2 linked regions of the Homo sapiens genome follow. The protein of the gene in region 1 purifies or fractionates together with the protein of each later gene. This does not show direct contact. Each region holds a gene or a part of one and is shown in the gene's direction. Other genes may lie near its edges.

What was found.
Region 2: the proteins of LAPTM4B (region 1) and EXOC3 purify together in Homo sapiens (co-immunoprecipitation; one study listed by IntAct). This does not show direct contact.

Annotation. Positions count from the first base shown.
Region 1 is NC_000008.11:97,817,272-97,821,083, forward strand, and holds part of LAPTM4B (lysosomal-associated transmembrane protein 4B), read left to right. Parts: intron 1-1,868; coding exon 1,869-1,967; intron 1,968-3,812. UniProt on the Homo sapiens protein: Required for optimal lysosomal function. Blocks EGF-stimulated EGFR intraluminal sorting and degradation.
Region 2 is NC_000005.10:463,526-467,337, forward strand, and holds the end of EXOC3 (exocyst complex component 3), read left to right. Parts: intron 1-764; coding exon 765-887; intron 888-1,585; coding exon 1,586-1,747; intron 1,748-2,192; coding exon 2,193-2,320; intron 2,321-3,201; coding exon 3,202-3,373; 3' UTR 3,374-3,765; downstream 3,766-3,812. UniProt on the Homo sapiens protein: Component of the exocyst complex involved in the docking of exocytic vesicles with fusion sites on the plasma membrane.

The DNA of each region.
Region 1 (3,812 bases):
TAGGCATGCACCACCATGCCCACCTAATTTTTCTTTTTGTATCTTATGTAGAGATGGGGTTTCACCATGTTGCCCAGGCTTGTCTCAAACTCCTAGACTCAAGTGATCCTCCAGCCTTGGCCTCCCAAAGTGCTGGCATTATAGATGTGACTCACTGTACCAGGCCAACTTTACTTTTTTTTTTTTTTTTTTTTGAGACAGAGTCTCACTCTATCACCTAGGCTGGAGTGCAGTGTTGTGATCTCGGCTCACTGCAACCTCCGCCTCCCTGGGTTCAAGCCATTCTCCTGCCTCAGTCTCCTGAGTAGCTGGGATTACAGGCACCCGCTACCAAGCCTGGCTAATTTTTTGTATTTTTAGTAGAGATGGGGTTTCACCATCTTTTCCAGGCTGGTCTCAAACATTTAGCCTCAGAGGATCCACCCTCATCGGCCTCCCAGAGTGCTAGGAATACAGGCGCCCACTACCATGCCTGGCTAATTTTTGTATTTTTTTTTTAGTAGAGGTGGGGTTTTGCCATGTTGACCAGGCTGGTCTCGAACTCCTGACCTCAGGTGATCCGCCCACCTTGGCCTCCCAAAGTGCTGAGATTACAGGCGTGAGCCACCATGCCCAGCCTGCAACCTCAATCTTCTGGGCTCAAGTGATCCTTCCACCTTAGCCTCCCAAGTAGTTTGGACTACAGACATGCACCACCATGCCCGGCTAAATTTGTATTTTTAGTAGAGATGGGGTTTGACTATGTTGTCCAGGCTGGTCTCAAACACCTGCACTCAAGCAATCTGCCTGCCTCAGCCTCCCAAAGTGCTGAAATTACAGGCATGAGCCACTGTGCTTGGCCAAGTTATTTTATTAATAAAAGAGTAAAGTTGCATGATCTGATCACAAAGAATGACGATTTTATTTCTTAGATATTTTGTCCCAAGTGAAAGGAGACTGAAAACCATTAGGTGGTGTTCACCCTGGTGAGCAGGAGCCAAGCCCATGAGTCATGGGCCTTCTCCATGTTCTTCCTCAACATTGGAAACAACTTTGTTTTGGAATATTGCTCGTGAGGAATCCAAACACATAGTGTTGAATGGTGAAGGGAGATAAAAGATGAGATAGCACAGTAGGCTGCCTTCCCATTCACTTGCCTAGGCCAGTGATGTAGGCGTTGATCAATGCTGTGTGAGTGTTCTGTGGGGAAAGTCCGGCAACTCCCTCTAACCATAGTAGCAGACTTTGATCCTCCTGAAAAGGTTCCCTTTGACCTGGTTGTTAAGCATTGTGGATGGTAGTGCTTGATTATTTCCCCCCACCCTGGAAGTACTTGCTAGTATAAGAGAATATGCTGTCTTGGGAGAAGTACCATCAACAAAAATGCTCTTTGCAAAGAAGACCTCATTTTAGTAGGTTTCTGTCCCTTGCCCTGCATATGCCCTTTAGAATGGTTCAGAACTTTTGAGACATGGTCTGGCTCTGTCGCCCGGGCGGCTGGAGTGCAGTGGCATGATCTCGCTCACTGCAACCTCCACCACCAGGGCTCAAGTGATTTGCTCACCCCAGCCTCCCAAGTAGCTGAGCTGGGCGACAGAGAGAAACTCCATCTCAAAAAAGAAAAAAAAAAAAAAAAGGAATGGTTCAGAACTTGCAGAGAATACAAATTTCAGAGATCCCTGGATATACAAAATGTCCCTGGATACCGATCACTGACGTCTTTTATATGGTAAGAGGGCAGAGTCAGGCTAGAAATTTTGTATTGGTTCTAAATAATAGCTGTCTGCTTTAATCAGTTGCTTTCTGATAAGCATGTCTGAATTGGTGCCCAAGGAATACTGTCTGGAATGATTAATGAGATTTGCTAATGAGGCCCTTTTCTTTTGCAGCCTCCTAATTTTCCCTACAGAGATGATGTCATGTCAGTGAATCCTACCTGTTTGGTCCTTATTATTCTTCTGTTTATTAGCATTATCTTGACTTTTAAGGTAAGCATGAAGATTTTACTTATAGTCTAAAAATATTAAGTGTATTCCTGAATACCAAATAAGTAAACAAACTTTGGTCAGTTTATTGTCTTTCTTTGGACATCCAAATTGCTTTTTGATTTCCTAAGATTACAATTCTTTATGCTGTCTATGTTGGAGGTAAACACTAATCAAAATTCCACAGTTTGATCAAGGAGTCCAAAATATATTTGGACAGAGATAAGTTAACATAATGTTATACATTACATAGTATATGATATTGCAACGTCTGTTACAAGGTCTGTGTAATGGATATTCTTTTGTAATTTTTTGCTAAAAGTGTAATATTTTCTGAATATTGTTCTATCTCAATCCATTATATGAATATCATTATTTAATAAATTACTTGATGAGCATTGAGACATTTTTTACTTTTTCACTTAATAGGGCTGTAGTGAATATATTTAAGTACATCCTTATATTTATGCATTTATCTCAAGATAAATTTCCTTTTTTTTTTTTTTTTTTTTTTTTTGAGATGGAGTCTCGCTCTGTCGCCCAGGTTGGAGTGCAGTGGCGCAACCTCGGCTTACTGCGAGCTTCGCCTCCCGGCTTCACGCCATTATCTTGCCTCAGCCTCCCCAGTAGGTGGGACCACAGATACCCGCCACCATGCCCAGCAAATTTTTTTGTATTTTTAGTAGAGATGGGGTTTCACTGTGTTAGCCAGGATGGTCTCGATCTCCTGACCTCATGATCCGCCCACCTCGGCCTCCCAAAGCTGGGATTACAGGCATGAGCCACTGTGCCCGGCTTCAAGATAAATTTCTTAAAATCAGGGTGTTCATGGTTGGAAAGCCTTTGATAGGTTGTCAAATTGATGTCCCCCAAAGTTAAATGACTTCTACTTCCTGCAGCAGTGCCTCACCCTTATCAATCAATTGCTGCAAATTCTTTTTCATCTTGGTCAATCTGTTTATAAAACCATCATTATAACTTGTGCTTATGAGCTACTAATGGGTAGAAAACTCTCATGGCTCTTTATGCTTTCAACTTTTTTCTTTTTTTATTTATTTTTCTTTCTTTCTTTTTTTTTTTTTTTTGAGGTAGGGTCTCTCCCTGTAGTCTAGGCTGCCTCCTGCCTTGGTTTCCCAAAGTTTTGGGATTACAGGTGTGAACCACTGCACCCAGCATACTTTGAATTTTTGAATCTCAATGCCTTTCATTGTCTTAATTTTGGCATAAAATTATGTCATTCTTCAAAAATCATGCCTCAGTAAACTTGGGAAAGCTGCATTGAGGCAGAAAATTCATATAGGTACTGTGATGAAAAGGAGTAGAAAGAAAGTGGTTCATTGGAAACCAGTTGGCCAGGTGAAATGGCTCACACCTGTGATCCCAACACTTTGGGAGGCTGAAGTGAGAAGATTGTTTGAGCTGGGAGTGTGAGGCTGTAGTGTGCTATGATAGCAGCACTGTACTTCAGCCTGGGTGACAGAGTGAGACCCCGTCTTGTTGTTGTTGTTGTTGAGACAGAGTCTCACTCTGTCACCTAGGCTGGAGTGCAGAGGTGCGATCTCGGCTCACTGCAACCTCTGCCTCCTAGGTTCAAGCAATTCTCCTGCCTCAGTCTCACGAGTAGCTGGGACTACAGGCGCCTGTTACCACACCCAGCTAATTTTTGTATTTTAGTAGAGACGGGTTTCACCATGTTGGCCATGCTGGTGTCAAACTCCTGACCTCAGGTGATTTGCCTGCCTCGGCCTCCCAAAGTGCTGGAATTACAGGCATAAGTCACCACACCTGGCTGGGGACACCGTCTCTTAAAAAATAAATAAGGCCGGGTGTGGTGGCTCATGCCTGTAA
Region 2 (3,812 bases), on another chromosome or scaffold:
AAAAAGGGGCTGTTTGTATTCTGTGTGGGCCTGAACTGGGTTGGGTTTTTGAGGGCAGCTTGGAAATACAGCCATTGTAGTTTTAATCTGTAACTTTTACTGGAGTTTTAATTTGTACACTTCTATTGGAGTTTTAATTTGTATACTTTTATTGGAGTTTTAATTTGTATACTTTTATTGGTTTTAATGTGTATACTTTTTGACTGAAAAATTCAACTTTAAGGAATTTCATCAGAATTATACAGATTCACTGTTGCATTATTGCAAAATGTGAAAAAAATTTAAATGTCCATCAATAGAGAATTGGGCAAATAAATACGATAAATATATGTAGCCACTAAAGGTAAAATGTATACATGCACAGATATTTCCATCTTTAACATGTCATTTTGGGAAGCTCATCACAGAAATTGTAGTATAAATCTCCTATACTTAAAGTACACATTTGCAGATTATATAATCAAATTTTTACCTGAGTGCGCATTGCTGTTGTAATTAGAAAAGCAGTGTGACGTAGCAAAGATGCACGGAAGTGCCTCCCTCCCACACGCACTCAGTGCTCGTGGGACGTTGAGGTGAGGAAGTGCCTCCCTCCCACGCTGCACGCAGCTCTCGTGGGGCGTTGAGGTGAGGAAGTGCCTCCCTCCCACACTGCACGCAGCTCTCGTGGGGCGTTGAGGTGAGGAAGTGCCTCCCTCCCACATGCACTCGGCTCTCGTGGGACGTTGAGGTGATGATTTCTATGATCTGTTTCTGCTTTTCAGCAACATCTGAATGAATTGATGACGAAGAAGTGGCTATTAGGGTCAAACGCTGTAGACATTATCTGTGTCACCGTGGAAGACTATTTCAACGATTTTGCCAAAATTAAAAAGCCGTATAAGAAGGTAAGAAGGTGGGACCTAGTTCCCTCATCACCTTGACGCTAGGGCTCACCTCTCACCCTGCTCAGAATTCAGCATCCAGCGAGTCCCTCCGTGAGTGAACGTTCACTTGTTGTCCTATCAGCCCAAGGGAGGCAATAGGCTCTGCGGACGCCACCTCCCTGGGACGGGGCTCTGGTGAGAATGGCCGGGGCCCTGTGGCATGGCCCTCGAGGTGGAGGGAGCCATGGTTCCCGGAGAGGCCCGCGTGCCCCGTCTTAGCTCCTTGCCTTCCACTCACTCCCTGAGGCCCCAGGGATTTCTTTCCGCTTCAGACCCTCCTTCCTGCAGGACCCAGGTTCCTCTTTCCTCCAAAGTGCCTGCCGCGTTTTCCAGATGCTGCGGTCGTTATCAAAGGACAGCAGCAGCCACTGACACGGGCCTGTCTGTGGACCGAGTGCTCATGCGCGGCACTGCCTCGCCCGCGTCTGTCCTGCTGGGGGCCGGAGCTGGCCTGGTGCGGGGGTCCAGGTCACCGTCACTGTTCCCCCACTGAGCCCCCGCTCCTCCTCTGCGGTGAGATGCCAGAGCCGTGGCGGAGCGAGGAGGAGTGGGCTCAGAGCCTCCGGGGAGCCACCGGGAGCCCCAGCCTGGGTTTCAATGAGGGTGCTCCTGGCCGCCAGAGCCGTGGAGCCTGCCGCTGACCGCGCGTGTCTCCCCAGAGGATGACGGCCGAGGCGCACCGGCGCGTGGTGGTGGAGTACCTGCGGGCGGTCATGCAGAAGCGCATTTCCTTCCGGAGCCCGGAGGAGCGCAAGGAGGGTGCCGAGAAGATGGTTAGGGAGGCAGAGCAGCTGCGCTTCCTGTTCCGGAAGCTGGCGTCCGTGAGTGTCGCGCAGGTCCGGGCTGGAGAAGGCCTGTCGCTCCGCGGCCCTGTTCAGCCTCCACCCCGGGACTCGGGCCAGTAGATGGGAGTGTGTCGTGTGTTTGTCAGGCGGGGGGAGCCTGGGTCCAGGTCCTGCCTGACCTTGTGGTTGGACACGAATGTCCACAGAGGTAGACGCGCCGGCCCCGCCGGCTTCCCGAGGCCGCCCACAGCTCCCTGACGGACGCTTCCCAGTCTGTCCTGCGCTGCGAGGTGCTGGCTGCCTCCCACGGTCTCGCCCTCACCCCAGACCCCTGGCCCTGTCACTGAGCTTTCAGAGTAGATCCTGAGGAGTCAGGTGAAGAGGGAGGTTCCCAGTCAGGAAGGGGCTCAGCCAGAATCCAGCTGCTCCCAGCGCCGCGGGACAGCCGAGGGCGGCTCCTCACATTGCTGCTGCCTTCCAGGGTTTCGGGGAAGACGTGGACGGATACTGCGACACCATCGTGGCTGTGGCCGAAGTGATCAAGCTGACAGACCCTTCTCTGCTCTACCTGGAGGTCTCCACTCTGGTCAGCAAGTATCCAGACATCAGGTAAGGGATGCACGTCTTAGAATCCTGCCTTAGAATCCTGGAGTGGAGCGGCAGGTCCCTCCTTCTGTCTGGGGCGGGTGGGGCTCCTGGTTCGCAAGTTCAGCCCTGCAGCACGGCAAGGGTTCAGGTGCGGCACAGCGGGGCCCAGGCGCAGGGAGCAGAGCTGCTTCTGTGCTGCCTTCCACCTGGCCTGGGCTACAGTGTGGGTGGGTGGAGCTCGAGGGGCACATCCCGGGTGGGGACAGTGGGGTGGGGGCGGGGCTGTGACAGCTCTGCTGTGTGTGGTGGGGAAGATTTGGGCTGTGGAGTGGCCTCAGTGGGGCGAGTTTAGGAAGTTTCCTCTGTGCTCATGGTGGACTCGGGAGGGCCCAAGTGCAGCTTGGACCAGACACCTTCCGAGGACGTGATTACAGGGAGTCCCCAGTACCAGGTCCAGGGAAGGGGACCCACGCACGTCCCCCCTCCACCATGCTGGCTCCAGGCCCCAGGCCAGCCTTTGCGGCCCCTGTCTCAGGGCACCTGCCACTTCCCCAAGGGGCCACCTCCATGGCTGCAGCCGCGTCACCTCCGTCCCATCATCTCGCTGGTTAAACGTGGAAAAACGGGGTCTTGAGCTCTCCACGGTCTCCCCTCTGGTTGGGCCGGAACAAAGATTTATAAAAGCAGTGTTGAAAAATCTTTCTGCAATTGGATTGAGAAAAGACAGAGTAAGATGAAAATGCAGGCTTGTCTCCCGCTGAAAAGGGAAAGGTGCAATTTGTCTGCAGCGGTCCTCACCCCCTGTGTTCTGTCAGCTGGGGTGGTGAAGCCGTGAGTCCCTGGCAGCGTGGTGCATCACAGGGCTGCTAAGTGGGCATGGGCTGACATCTCCCCATCCCCAGGGATGACCACATCGGTGCGCTGCTGGCTGTGCGTGGGGACGCCAGCCGTGACATGAAGCAGACCATCATGGAGACCCTGGAGCAGGGCCCAGCACAGGCCAGCCCCAGCTACGTGCCCCTCTTCAAGGACATTGTGGTGCCCAGCCTGAACGTGGCCAAGCTGCTCAAGTAGCCTCCGCCGGCCTGCCCTGCTCGCCCCTCCACAGCCTCGGTCCCTGCCTTTAGAAACGCGGGACAGCTGATTGCTCTCCTTGGCCACACGTGCTCCTTTTAGCTGCACGGCCTGTCTTTAGGTGCCAGTGTGATGCACCGGGTGTGCGTCGAGTGAGCGTCCCGAGGCCACGTGCGGAGGCCCCTCACTGTGCTGTCAAAGGCCTGTGGGTGCAGGGCTCTGCCGCACAGCCTCTCTTGGGTGCTTGTTTGTTGCAGTGGTTGAAAGTGTGTGGGGCACAGAGGACGTGCACCTCCCTGCCCTCCTCCTCCCTGGGCCTTCACCGCACCCCATCTGCTTAAGTGCTCGGAACCCCGTCACCTAATTAAAGTTTCTCGGCTTCCTCAGAGAAATGAAAACGCCATGCATTCTCTTTTCCAGTTAAGGTTTTCTGACTACT